Homo sapiens: one gene and its partner. The protein of the gene in region 1 interacts with the protein of each later gene in a biochemical or structural test. Each region holds a gene or a part of one and is shown in the gene's direction. Other genes may lie near its edges.

Region 1 (6,981 bases):
GACTCAAAAACAGTCAACTCTCATTTATCCACATGCAGTTTCCACTCTATCTTAAGGGATAATTTTTATTTTTTTTTGAGACAGGGTCACCTTTTTTTCACCAGGTGACACCAGGGTTGCTGTCACCTAGGCTGTCACTGCAGCCTCGACCTCCTGGCCCAAGCAATCCTCCCACCTAAGCCTCCCAAGTAGCTGTGACCACAGAATGCCACCATGCCCAGCTAAATTTTTTTGTAGAGACAGTGTTTCCCTATGTTGCCTAGGCTGGTCTCAGAACTTCTGAGCCAAGTGATTCTCCTGCCTTGACCTCCTAAAGTGTTAGGATTATAAGTGTGAGCCACATGCTTGTCCTTAAGGGAGAATTTTTAAGACTCAGGCTGCTATCACTAATATAATAATTAACCATTCAGAAAATGTGACGTTTTCCTCTCAATCTTTATTATTATTAATTTTGAGATGAAGTCTCGCTCTGTTGCCCAGGCTGGAATGCAATGGCGCAATCTCGGCTCACTGTAACCTCCGCCTCCCAGGTTCAAGCAATTCTCCTGCCTCAGCCTCCCGAGAAGCTGGGATTACAGGTGCCTGCCACCATGCCTAGCTAATTTTCTGTATTTTTGGTAGAGACGGGGTTTCACCACGTTGGTCAGGCTGGTCTCAAACTCCTTACCTCAAGTGATCCACCCACTTCCGCCTCCCAAAGTGCTAGGATTACAGGTGTGAGCCAATGCGCTTGGCCTCAATTATTAGCATTTAATAGAAATTAACATTACCCTTTAGCAATGTAGTCTCTGTTGCTGGGGAAATGCTGTTGGAGGTCAAGTATACATTTTATGAATAATTTATGGATTATTTGCAGTTTTGGATGTAATCTTCATTAACATGAAAATAACTTAGAGTTGACTACATATTTATTTTTAGTAAAGGAATACTCAACAATGAACCCTGCTTAAAAAGACAACCCTACTATAGGAATAAGTAGTTGTCTCCTAAAAAAGTGTGGAGATATGAAATGTGTGGCAAATAAGTTTATTTTTTATTTATTGACCGAGAGGGTCTCACTGCTGTGCAGGTTGGCATAAAATGGCGCCTTCAAAGCTCACTGCATCCTGGAACTCCTGAGCCCAAATGATCCTCTGCCTCAGCCTCCCCAGTAGCTAGGACTATAGGCAAGTGCCTCTACACCTGGCTAATTTTTAAATTGTTTTGTATAGACAGGGTCTTGCTAGTTTTCCCAAGAGGGTCTTGAACTCCCGGCCTCAAGTGATCCTCTTGCCTTGGCTTCCTTCCAAAGCAGTGAGGTTAGAGGTGTGAGCCACTGTGCCCTGCCATGTTGACTTTTAAAAACCCTGTAATAACTTCCAATTGTCCTCAAGAAAAAGTTCAATTCTTTTTTTTTTTTTTGAGATGGAGCCTTGCTCTGTCGCCCAGGCTAGAGTGCAGTGGTGCGATCTCACTGCAACCTCTGCCTCCCGGGTTCAAGCAATTCTTCTGTCTCAGCCTCCCGAGTAGGTGAGATTACAGGTGCCTGCTACCACACCCAGCTAATTTTTGTATTTTTAGCAGAGACGGGGGTTTCACCATGTTGGCCAGGCTGGTCTTGAACTCCTGACCTCGTGATCTGCTCGCCTCAGCCTCCCAAAGTGCTGGGATTACAGGCGTGAGCCACTGCGCCTGGCCAAAAGTTCAATTCTTTAACATGGCCCTACAAGGACTTTTGTGGACTCTGCTCCATTTTCCACTATCACTGTATTCTAACAATAAAAGCTGTTTGCCTAGAATGCTCTTTGACTATACACTGACTACCACTAGCAGCAATACTACTTTTTTTTCGAGATGGAGTCTCGCTCTGTCGCCCAGGCTGGCGTGCAATGACGAGATCTCGGCTCACTGCAACCTCTGCTTCCCAGGTTCAAGTGATTCTTATGTCTCAGCCTCCCCAGTAGCTGGGATCACAGGCGCTCGCCACCACGCCCAGTAATTTTTTTGTATTTTTGTAGAGACGGTGTTTTACCAGGTTGGCCAGACTGGTCTCGAACTCCTGATCTCAGGTGATCCACCCGCCTTGGCCTCCCAAAGTGCTGGGATTACAGGCGTGAGCCACTGCGCCTGGCCAATACTATTAATAATAGTTACAACCTACCGAATTCTTATTAGGCATGGGACAGTTTATATACATTATTAGTTATACTTTATGAAGTAGGTACTATTCTTAATCCAGGTGTACAGACAAGGCACAGAGAAATGAAGCAATTAACTGAGAGGAACACAGCTATTAAAGTGTAGGCACTTTAATCTGTTTCAATCCAGATCTGTCTGAATTCAATGATGTTCCCAAACTTGGAACATGAAAATATCAACTTTCTCCAAGAAGTCTGACATGTTTAATATCCTCTAATAGCAAATGTGATAAGGTTAGCACTTAAGACACTGGTTTACAACGGACCTGTGTACTTGATGCCTCCCCAACCGGAAGATAAGCCATCTGAACTCACTTAAGGCGGCATGTTCACTTTTGCTTCCCCAGCTCCACAGTTAAGTGTACCACAGTTTCTGGTACACGTAATGCGTGTTAATAAAGATTTGTTGAATAATCAAATAAGCGAAACTGCTTTTAAACAGAAAGCCATAATACAATGTTATTACCTTCGAATTTGGCTAGAGAACATCACCAAGCTTACCAGTTTGTGATCTAGACTCCACTTTTCCCCATTTTTTTCAGTGTGCTACTTTTGCTTATATCCATTCTTCTGTGACTTTGTTTGCCACAATTCCTTAAATACTTCCACCCCTCCTTTTCATAACAGCGATCTGCCGTTTGTGAACCTCTTTTACAGAGAAAAACTAGAATGTTACTTTTCCTTTCATAGCAATTCTTTAAAATTTCTGAAAGCCTTTAAAAGGGTATTAGCGCAAACATCAGAGATCGCTGAGGTTAAAACTATCTTTTAAAAATGAATTTCACCGTCTCAAAAAAAATAAAAATGAATTTCAAATCAAGGCTAGGCTGATTGGAGAAAAGCAACCTAGTATATTTATAAAGGTCTTCCAGTGCTGTCTAAGCAGTGTTGTCCCAGGTGGCATCCTATTTTTCATAATTTACCGAAGGCCCTTGGTAATATAAATACAGAGAATAACAGGTGCTGCACTGAGCAGGGGGTCTGTCTAAATCAACCTTTTTGGCTCCATTTTTTGACAAAGGGCCAAGAGGTTAGCGTAATCGGTCCAGTAGTTCTCATTACCTTCGAGGGGAAGGGGAAAGAGGAGAGGGGCGAAGAAAGGAAACGGGGAGAGGAAGTGTGGCAAATAGAAGATATTCTTCAGGTAGAGCCAGGGCTCGGGCCGCGTCCCCAGGTGGCCCCTCCAAACGACCGTTTACCTTGTCAATTTTCTCTTTTCAATGAAAAAAAAAAAAAAGACATCTGGCTTTTTAAGTAAGAGAATATACAAATAAGGAAGGTATCAGGTCTCGTGAGAATTCGGCGCCAGATCCGCGTCCGGAACCCCACCGAGAGCCGCCGGTCCAACCGCCGATAGCTCGCGGATGCCCCCGGGGGCCCGACGCCGGCCAGGCTTCCCCTAGCGCTCCCGCTACCCATAAGCCCTCGCGTCTCAGCGCGCACGCGCAGCGGCGACGGCCGTCTCAGGAAGAGGAAAATGGAATAAACAACTCGGAGGAACCAGAGCGCGAGAGAGCGAGTGGAGGCAGAATTTAAAAATAAACCGGCCCCTCCGCCTTCCCCACCCGCTTGCCGCTGCCGCTCCCTCTTCCCCTGCCCGCGCCCTCGAAGTCCCCGTCTGGGCCCGCGCGCTCACCCCGTCGTCCCGCGCGGCCCCTTTAAGAAAAGAGAACGAGAGAGTGAGTGAGAGAATCCCAACTCTCCCCCTACCCTCCCTCCTTCTACCCCCTCCTCCCTCCCCTCTCCCCTCCCCCTTCTCCCCGGGCGGCTCCGGCTCCCGCAGCGGGACAGACCCACCCGCCCAGGCTTTTATCCGGCACCGGCAGCGTCTTCCTTTCCTCCCCCGTCTATGGTGGTGGCGGCGGCGGCTCCTCGGGCGGCGGCGGAAGACGAGGCTGCGGCGTTGCCATGAACAGTGGCGGCGGCCTCCCGCCCCCCTCGGCCGCCGCCTCCCCTTCCTCCTCCTCGCTGGCGGCGGCGGTGGCGGTGGTGGCCCCGCCGGGGGTCGGGGGTGTCCCCGGCGGGGCGGCGGTAGGAGTGAAGCTGAAGTACTGCCGCTACTACGCTAAGGATAAGACTTGCTTCTACGGGGAGGAGTGTCAGTTCCTGCATGAGGACCCTGCCGCCGGGGCTGCCCCGGGCCTCGGCCTCCATAGCAACAGCGTCCCCCTGGCTCTGGCTGGTGCACCCGTGGCCGGCTTTCCGCCGGGAGCCGTCGCGGGCGGGGGAGCTGGGCCGCCCCCCGGGCCCAAGAAGCCGGACCTGGGGGACCCGGGGACCGGAGCCGCAGCCGGCGGAGGAGGCAGTAGCGGGGGACTCGATGGACCGCGGCTGGCAAGTGAGTGTTTTTCGGGCGGGGCGGGCCGCGGCGGCGGAGGGCAGGCCTGGGCCGGATGAGGCCCTGCTGCCGACGGGAGCTGAGCACGGCCCGCGGGCTCCCCCCCTCACCTCCCAAGGCGGTCTGAGAGGCCTAGGCCGGGCCTGAGCCCTCCTTCCTTCTTCCTGCTTCCCCTCCCCACTGCCTTCGGCAAGTCGGAGAGCGCGGGGAGGTTGGGTTCCCGGGAACGTGGGTGGGAGGACTGGGGTGATGTGAAGGGGGGGCGGGGAGGAAGGGGGATGGGCTGTGGCGTGCGGAGTGTGAGAAAGGGGGTGTCGTTTCCGGGGGGTGTGGAAAGGGGCTGGGTTTGCAGGCACATGTGTTTTGCGTGTCCTTGTGGAGTGGCGTCTGCAGAGTGTTGAGGTTCCCTAGTGGGGAGGGGTGTGTTTGTGTGTGTGTGTGTGTGTGTGTGTGTGTGTGTGTGTAGGGGGCGGGAGGTGAGGGGCGGGCTTAAGGCTTCGTGGAGTAGGTTGAAAGAACGGAAAAAGTTTGTAGAAGGCTTGCGGGAGAAAGGTTTTGCAGGCAGGAAATGCTTTCTAAGGATTAGGAGGGAGCGGACTGTCGCGTTCAAAGTGTGCTCAGGTTTAATCGAGAGTTTAGAGTAGGGATTTCACAAAGACGCATTTCATCTGAGTTTCCCTGAAAGCTAGAATAAGTTTGCTGGTGTCAGCTGGGATCCTGTCTTCTATAGCTTTGTATCAAGCAAACTCAGCATTGTGTCTTGAATGCATGTCATGTGCAGCCTGCGTTTATGTGCGACTGAGCACTTGGGTGGGGACATCTTAAGGCTGTTTATATTTCTTTTTCATGTGTTGTTGTTGTTGTTGTTGTTGTTGTTTTGGAGAGAGTCTCGCCCTGTCGCTCAGGCTGGAGTGCAGTTGCGCGATCTCAGCTCACTGCAACCTCCGCCTCCCGAGTTCAAGCGATTCTGTTGCCTCTGCCTACGGAGTAGCTGGGACTACAGGCGCGCGCCACCACGGCCAGATAATTTTTTGTAGTTTTAGTTGAGATAGTAGTCTCGTTGTGTTGGCCAGGCTGGTCTCAAACTGCTGGCCTCAAGTGATCTGTCCTCCTCAGCCTCTCAGTGTGTTGTTATCTATTGACCTGAAGCTTGTTAGTTGTTAGTGGAGTTTACAATTGAATGTGAGCGTAATCTGTTAGAGAATGTTGCCTTTACGAATAGAGCCGGTGCCAGATGTCCCTGTTTTGTTTCTTAGTATATTGAGCGTTTCTAAACCAAATAGGAGTCCTACTTTCTTGGGAATTCTGGAGAACTAGATCTTAAAATAATCTGATAGGCAGTTCAATTTGTACATGAGAACATTTTGTCTTTTTCTTAAACACTGTTAATGAACCTGATAGGAAGTTTTAGCATTTAATTGGTCTATGAGGATTATTTAATATCTTCCCCGGGGTTTTGCTTTCTTGCTTTTTCTTTCGAGACGGGATCTTCCTATGTTGCCCAAGCTGGCCTGGAACTCCTGGGCTCAAGCGATCTTCCTGCCTGGGCCTCCCAAAGTGCTGGGATTACAGGAGTGAGGCACCATGCTGGGCCAAGTGTTGTTCTGTTCTGTTCTTTTCTCCTTTCTCTCTTCTTTCTTTTTCTTTTATAGAAGTGTTTCATTTGTTGTGATGGGCTTGACTTTAATGAAGATATATTTGCTAAGGCTGATAATGCTAAGAAAATTAATTTTGTAAATTCAGATGTTTTGTAAAACAAATGGTTACTTATGGGTGGAATTTTATCACTTTCGAGCATCAACTTTGCATTTTCAGGTTAAAGTTTTGCTGGATGTGTGAGTCGTGACTCAGTAGTAATGTTTGATTAGTAACCAATGACACTGAACAATAGTTTTCTTACTGACAGAAAGAGACACTTTTTTTTTTTTTTTTTTTGAGACGGAGGCTTGCTTGTCGTCCAGGCTGAAGTGCAGTGGTGCGATCTCGGCTCACAGCAACCTCCACCTCCCAGGTTCAAGCAATTCTCCTGCCTCAGCCTCCCAAGTAGCTGGGTTTTACAGGCATGCGCCACCACGACCGGCTTATTTTTGTATTTTTAGTAGAGACGGGGTTTCGCCATGTTGGCCAGGTGGGTCTCGAACTCCTGACCTCAGGTGATCGTCCCGCCTCGGCCTCCCAAAGTGCTGGGATTACAGGTGTGAGCCACTGTGCTGGCCAGAAAGAGGCACTTTTTAAAATGCTGGTGTTAGACTTCATAGGTGATCTTTCTAGGATTCTCTTTTTAAAAAAAACTTTTAAAGTTTTATTTATCTATTAATCTTATTCCTGACAGACAGCTCTGACGATCATTCTAGGATTTTCTTTTTCTTTTTTTCTTTTTTTTTTTTTTTTTTTTTTGAGACGGAGTTTCACTCTTGTTTACGAGGCTGGAGTGCAATCTAGTGATCTCGGCTCACCGCAACCTCT
Region 2 (7,411 bases), on another chromosome or scaffold:
CGGAGTAGCTAGGACCACAGGCATACCCCACCAAGCCTGGCTGACTTTTTTTATTTTTTTGTAGAGGCGAGATCTCACTATGTTTGTTGCCCAGTCTCAAACTCTTGGGCTCAAGTAAACCTCTAACTTTGGCCTCCCAAAGTGCTGGGATTACAGGCATGAGTCAACACCATGGCCAGCCTTGCTTTTATATTTATTCATTTTTGGGGTTTATTAACTCTTTTTCTAGATTTTTGAACATATATATATATATATATATTTTTTTTTTTTTTTTTTTTTTTTTTTTGAGACAGAATCTCATTCTGTTGTCCAGGCTGGGGTGCAGTGGCATGATCTTAGCTCACTGCAACCACCATCTCCCAGGTTCAAGTAATTGTCCTGCCTTAGCCTCCCAAGTAGCTGGGATTACCAGCAGGTACCACCATGCCCAGCTAAATTTTGTATTTTGAGTTGGGTTTTCACCATGTTGGCCAGGCTGGTCTTGAACTCCTGACCTCAGGTGATCTGCCTGGCTCAGTCTCCCAGAGTGCTGTGATTACAGGCGTGAGCCACCACGCCCAGCCTTTTTCTAGATTTTTGAGTTAAATACTCAGTTCAGTTATTTTTCAATCTTGTTTTCTTCTTTTTCTTTTTCTTTTTTTTTTTAGAGACAGAGTTTTGCTCTATTGCCCCAGCTGGAGGGTAGTGGCACGACCTTGCTCACTGCAGCTCACTGCAACCTGCAGCCTCCACCTTCTGGCTTCAAGTGATTCTTGAGCCTCAGCCTGCTGAGTAGTTGGGACTACAGGCGTGTGCCACCATGCCCAGCTAATTTTTGTTATTTTTAGTAGAAACGGGATTTTGCCATGTTGGCCAAGCTGGTCTCGAACTCCTGGCCTCAAGTGATCCACCCACCTCGGCGTCCCAAAGTGCTGGGATTACAGGTATAAGCCACCATGCCTGGCCAATCATGTTTTCTGATAAAAATATTTTGAGGAATGGTATGTAACCTCCAAAGGTGCCAGCTTTGAAAGATAACAGTCATTTGAATGTTCTTGTTTTTAGTTTTAGAAAATAATTTTTATGGCTGAGGCCGGCAGATCACGAGGTGATCACGAGGTGATTTAGTGAAACCCCGTCTCTACTACAAATACAAAAAAATTAGCCGAGCGTGGTGGCAGGCACCTATAGTCCCAGCTATTCGGGAGGCTGAGGCAGGAGAATGGCGTGAACCCGGGAGGCGGAGCTTGCAGTAAGCCGAGATAGCACCACTGCACTCTAGCCTGGGCGACAAAGCGAGACTCCATCTCAAAAAAAAAAAAAAAAATTTATTTCTTTGTGTCCTTACCTTACAATAATATAATTTTAAAATATTGTCTAATTGTTAATATGAAAAAAGTATAATAAATCTATCACAGAATCTATTATGTCTGGAAACACAAGGGAGAAATAATGTATTTATTGCACTTGTTTGTTTTAGATAAACGATTAGACTAATTGTATTAAATTTAGAGGTATTGCATAGAAAAGATGATGTGGAGGTTAAGGAAAAAATATTCAGTGGCCGGGCGCAGTGCCTCATGCCTGTAATCTCAGCACTTTGGGAGGCTGACGTGGGCAGATCACGAGGTCAGGAGTTCGAGACCAGCCTGGCCAACATGGTGAAACCCTGTCTCTATTAAAAATACAAAAATTATCTGGGCATGGTGGCATGTGTCTGTAATCCCAGCTACTCAGGAGGCTGAGACAGGAGAATCGCTTGAACCCAGGAGGTGGAGGTTCCTGTGAGCCGATACCATGCCACTGCACTCCAGCCTGGGTGACAGAGCAAGACTCTGTCTCAAAATATATATATATATGTTTTCAGCATATTATTTGAAATTAGAACCAATATTTTATTTAAAATATGTTTGTTCTGTTTCCAAACTTTTCATGCAGTTTGCTATTTAACACTTACAAGGCAACACATATAAATATTTGTATACAATAATATTCTACACTGGGGAATGGAGACTTAGCAAAGTTCAGTTTCATAAAGAAAGCATGTCCATCACAAATTAAAACAAGGTGGATGTTCAGTCTCCACACATTTTTACAAATCGAGCCAGCTACAAGCAAGTAGGCTTTCAGTAACTCATCTGGAAGGTATTGGAAGGATAAAAATAGACTAAATAATCAGAATTTCCATTCTAGTAGTTTCCTGCTTTTTCCTGCATCTCAATTGTCAGTGCAGGGCCTGGCTATTTCACTCAGTGCTAGGCAAAGACAGTGGAAGCTTGTTAAGCCACAGCTATTCAGGCTACCAGATTGTCCAGGCATTGGCCTTTGCCTGCCATGAAACAGCTCCTTTCCTGTCGTCATATCTGAGTGGAAAGAGCAAAGGCGGGAGACTGTATAAAGACCCAGAAGCCAGGATGACAACAAGTGTTGTGGGATTTTACAAGCATTCGTAGGTTCCTTTTCAAGGAAAGCCGGGTTTCTAGAATCCATCAGTTGTCTGCTGGCTGGCATGGCAGCCTAGTTTATGGGAGAAGCACACTAGGGAATCCTCCCTTTTCTGGCTTATAGAGATAGGTGGAGTCGATAGTCACAGGGCATTCTCATGCACTTTTTTTTTTTTTTTTTTTGAGATGGAGTTTCACTCTTGCTGCCCAGTCTGGAGTGCAATGGCGCGATCTCGGCTCACCACAACCTCCGCCTCCCGGGTTCAAGCGATTCTCCTGCTAAGCTCAGCCTCCCTAGTAGCTGGGATTACAGGCATGTGCCACCACGCTGGCTAATTTTGTATTTTTAGTAGAGACGGGGTTTCTCCATGCTGGTCAGGCTGGTCTCGAACTCCCGACCTCAGGTGATCTGCCTGCCTCGGCCTCCCAAAGTGCTGGGATTACAGGTATGAGCCACCGCACCCGGCCTCATGCGCTTTTTACCATTTTAGTTACTTTCTTTCCTGAAGCCGTCCTTAAAACATAGATGAATGCGAGTTTCTGGGAACTATGTGACCCTCATTCCCCTACATTTTTTATATTCAGGTGGCAGATTTCCTCCTACTCAGCCCAGCCCTTCTGAATAGGGTCCAAGTCATTGATTTATTCATTTATTTACCTCCTATGTGGTGTTTGGTGTGGAGCCTCACAGAGCAGTGAAGACGTGGTGTTTTTCCTTATACAGTTTACAGTCTCCTGGGGAAGACTAATGTTAAGCACATTCTTTCATAAATTGCAATTATGACCATTGCTCTGAAGAAGTAGTAAAGGATATTATGGGAGTGTTAACAGGAGGGCCTGGTCTGGACTGCGAGGGTCAAGAAGCCTTCCCAGGGTGGAGGCGAACTTTTGAGATGGCCAGGAAAAGATGAACAGAACTACTCAAAGAAGCCAAGTGCAGAGTTTCAGAGGTGAAAGAAACCAAAGATACCATCTAGGGAAGCCCAATCTCCGCCGGCTACCAATGAGAAAACGGAGGCCAGGCAGGGTGGGAGGATGGGTAAGGGACTTACTTACTTGCTGTTAGCAGTGAAGTTACACGGCCTGTGAGCCGCGGGGGCTGGAGATGCAAACCGAGCTTGGGTTTCTTAAGTGGGTAGGAGTGGAGATGTATATGCGAAGGAGAAGGGATTAGGAGTGGTGGAAACCAGGTAGGTTTTAATTTAGTGCCTAGGCTCCCTCAGCTGCAGAGCTACCTCCTGCGGTGGGGGAGGGGATTAAAGATGACTCAGACCTGCCCTAGCCCAGAGAAACTCCGTTTGCAGTGCTGAAGCATAGTTTTTATTTGGGTTTGGGGGAGGAGGTACTGAACACACATACAGGCAAAACAATAAGTGTAGAGTTCAGAATTGGGAAACCAGTCCCTCTTCTGCAGCTGTTCAGCTGTGTGATTTGGGATAAGTCACTTAACCTTTCTGAATTGCAGTTCAGTTTATACTTTTGTGCGTTTCTTTCAGTCTTTTTCTATACATTTTAGGAGTTTCTTAGAGATCAGTCGTGCCCTGTATTTCACCTCATTCTTTCAAAGCTAAAGCCTCTTGTTTGGTAGAGCTGTGTTTCAGCCCCTTTTACAGAGCAGTTTGCCAGCCTGTGCTTGCCCAAACATCTAGAGAATAACTAGCAAGCGAGCCAGGAGAAGATCCAGGAGCTGTAAGAATCGTTAGCAACTGAGCATATTTCTATAAACCAATAAAGGTTTTTCTGTTTTGTTCATCTGTTACCCTTATGCTGTTGCCACTTTCACATGCAGTGTCTGTAGGCGGAGAGTATGAGATAACAGCATTTCACAAATGAAAGTGAGTGGAAAAGGGCTGCTTCCCCTTTAAGGCAGTCTCAGCTCCAGCTCCCTCCCCTTTCCTGATTGACAAACCTACCCGAAGTCACATGATCTGCCTCTATTTGAAGGTCACAAAAAGCTGCTTCCTTTAGAGACAGAGAGGGAGAGAGAGAGCAAGAGGGAGAGTGTGTGAGAGAGAGTTAGTTCAAGCCAAAATGGCCGACAGAGTCTCTGCTGGTTTCTGAATATTTAAAATACAAAAAAACAGATAGACAAAAAGAATTCATTTTTTGGACCTTTTTTCATTTCCATTTCTACCTTGTATGCCTCAATTTGCTGGATTTAAGCACTGCTGCACTTTATGAGGTTGGTAAATATTTTCAATTTTTTTTAACCAATTGATTTATATGGATCTTGTCTAACCGTTTTCACTGGTGGTGTTGCAAATCGACATTTGTCTAGCATGGAGACTGGCTTCAGACATTTCGTGGATCTGTGTAAATCAGACCCGTGATGTACTTTGGTTCGGCATTTTAGAAATGGAAAAGACGTGGTAAAATATTTAGATTTTGAAGTGATTTAATTGCACTTTTAATGTATATGCAGATTTTCATCATCGTTTCTATCTTGCAATAAATGAAGCTGCGAGTAATTGGAAATTTGCTATTTAGAAAGAGGTTTTTAAAAAACACAGACCTCCCCCTCCCCCCTTAAATCTGCTGCAAAAATTTGCATAAATATAAATGGGTTTGCATTCTTTCGGCTGCTAAGGCCGACAAAGGATCTGGGAGGGCAAGCCCTAGAACGGGAAAGCCTTTTTCTATCTTTTTATTTTTTAAACTGGGCCCTCCTTCCTAGAGAGATGTAAAACCTAAAGTAAGACCTAATACATTTTAAACATCAGGTTGGGGGCGGGTGAACACCAGGAGGTTTGGGGTTTGTAGATTCCCCTGCTTGAAAACCTCCCAAGCAATATGTGGCTCACCCCTCTCCTTTCTGCGCGCGCTCATTTGCACTGGGTCTCTGTGTGTGTTCTCAAATGTGCAGCCAGATGCGCTTTTATTTTGATCCTGGATTCAACCAAAGGGTAGGACTATGTTGTAAACATGGTGTTTTAAAGATATGAACAGCTATTCACCGCGATTAGAAATTATTTCTTTATCAGTTCTCCCTGTGTATTAGCCTTCTTCATTCCTCACGAAATAAAATTTTTGTTTAATTTTACACAGATGCAAAACTGAGTTTTTCAGCATAAATTCATCGTGTGAGTGTGTGGTTGCCTGTTTCGGCCATGTATCCACTGCGAAGTGGTCATTTAGGGTCACATGTATAAGTAGCAGTCTATGTGATTGTTAGTAACCCCTGAAGCTGTGCAGTGCCTGAAGTTAAATTCCATTACTCCTAATGCAGGATTCTGGAAGCCTGAGAGCAGGGAGGAAAGAAAGCTGAAAACTTGCTTTCTCAGAGCCTCCTCCCCCTATCATTGTGAGAGTGTGATGTAATGCTTCTCGGTCTGGTGGGCTGAAAGGATTGTAGTTTGTGATGTGGCGGGTAAATTGCCCCCACCCCTGGGTAAATTACTCCACCCCCCTGAGCACATCCCTGGCTCTGAGAGGCCTTGTTTTCTTTTCTCTTTTTTTCCTAATTTGTATCCTCCTGATTTATGCTGTGGCATATTGGCATGAGAAAGAGACTGTTCTTCTAAATCTGTTACAAAGTATAGTTTAGAAAAGGCATTTAAAATATGCAAATGGGTTGAATTGTCATATCCCCATCATTAAATATGTAGACGTGGATTAAAGCTAATTAAGCATAAATGGAATAATTTTGATCAGAAGGGAGCAGTGTTTTTTGTTGTTTCCTTTTTAATTAATCTAATTATGAGATGCTTACTGGGCCTGAAAGTGTTAAAAAAGATAAAGTGGAAAAAATGCTGGACCATTTTGAAAATTTGACAGTCTGGAAGAGGGTGTGTGGTGCTTTCAAAAGCTTTATTCACTCTTAAAATGGATTGGCCTCTTGTGCTGAAAATGGCCTGTTTCTTTGGGCCAATTGTGTGTAGATGAAGGGACTTTCACGCTAATTTAACAAAAAGACTTTCCATTTGAATACATAAGATAATTAAAGCCCTCTGTCTCTAACAAGCAAGGATTTTATTATTTTAAAAAATTAATGTTGTTATGTTAGTAATGGTAATAAATACAGAAGTGACTGTTTAGATTCACTGTAAATTTTTTGATGATATAAATTCAGCTTTTGTGTAAGAAGGATTGGAAACATTACATTAAAGAGGTAGTCTGGAACAAAGTTGTCTCTAAATTTTTTTACGGCTTGAATTTAAAGGGAAAAGATAGAGAAATTACCTTAGTGATAGAGAATGTTGCATTGTGGTAGACCTAAAGGAAAATCAGCTCTGATTTTTGTTGCTGTTTTTCTGAAAATGAAAGCACTTTTTTGGGGCTTTGCTTGTTATATGATTCATTTTACACCTATTTCCTAAAGTTGGTCTTACTGAAGAGGAGATAAAACCTAGGCTTTCCATGTTTTGCCATTATCTTGTTTTTGTGGCTGTGTAAACATATGAATGGCAGGTTAATTCAGTTTGCAGAGAGGAGGAACCAGAGCAGGGTACCTGCTGTCTTAGGCAGAACAGAGAATGATACAATGAATGCCATTTGATTCTTTGAAATGTTTTTTATAAATATTCTTTTCCCCTGGATAATTAAAAGGTGAGATAAATAAGACCTGGCTTCACGTATGGGAAGCATTATGGCTCTGGTGAGTTGATAGCTCGACTGCCATTTTGGATCTCAGATCCTGCAGAGCCAATCCTTCTGGCTCACCAACACGATGGTCATCCAGAAGGAAATGAAAATGAGTAATCAATTAAGTGTGCAGATGGATAGTATTTAATTTGTGCCTTCTGTTGAAGTTTTCTTTCTGTGAGTACTGTGAATTGAAGCTTTAAAAACTTTAAAGATGTGGCCGATGTTATGAAGAGCAATATCCAGGGGTGCTGGAACTTGCACGTTGTAGTTTTACTTTTTAAAAATGAGATGGCATATGCAGAGGAAGTTTCTTATTGGAGAAAGTGAATATAATCCCTATTAACTGCCACCCCCCCCACCAATCTATATTTCCTAATGCTGGATCAACTAGTGATAATATCACA

Evidence for each region. Proteins that work in one complex are often made in the same cells at the same time.
Region 2: the proteins of PAN3 (region 1) and TNRC6B form a complex in vitro, tested with the Homo sapiens proteins (one study listed by BioGRID and IntAct).

Annotation. Positions count from the first base shown.
Region 1 is NC_000013.11:28,134,573-28,141,553, forward strand, and holds the start of PAN3 (PAN2-PAN3 deadenylation complex subunit PAN3), read left to right. Parts: upstream 1-3,972; 5' UTR 3,973-4,085; coding exon 4,086-4,515; exon of another isoform or gene 4,516-4,602; intron 4,603-6,981. UniProt on the Homo sapiens protein: Regulatory subunit of the poly(A)-nuclease (PAN) deadenylation complex, one of two cytoplasmic mRNA deadenylases involved in general and miRNA-mediated mRNA turnover.
Region 2 is NC_000022.11:40,173,536-40,180,946, forward strand, and holds the start of TNRC6B (trinucleotide repeat-containing gene 6B protein), read left to right. Parts: upstream 1-4,389; 5' UTR 4,390-4,600; coding exon 4,601-4,605; intron 4,606-7,411.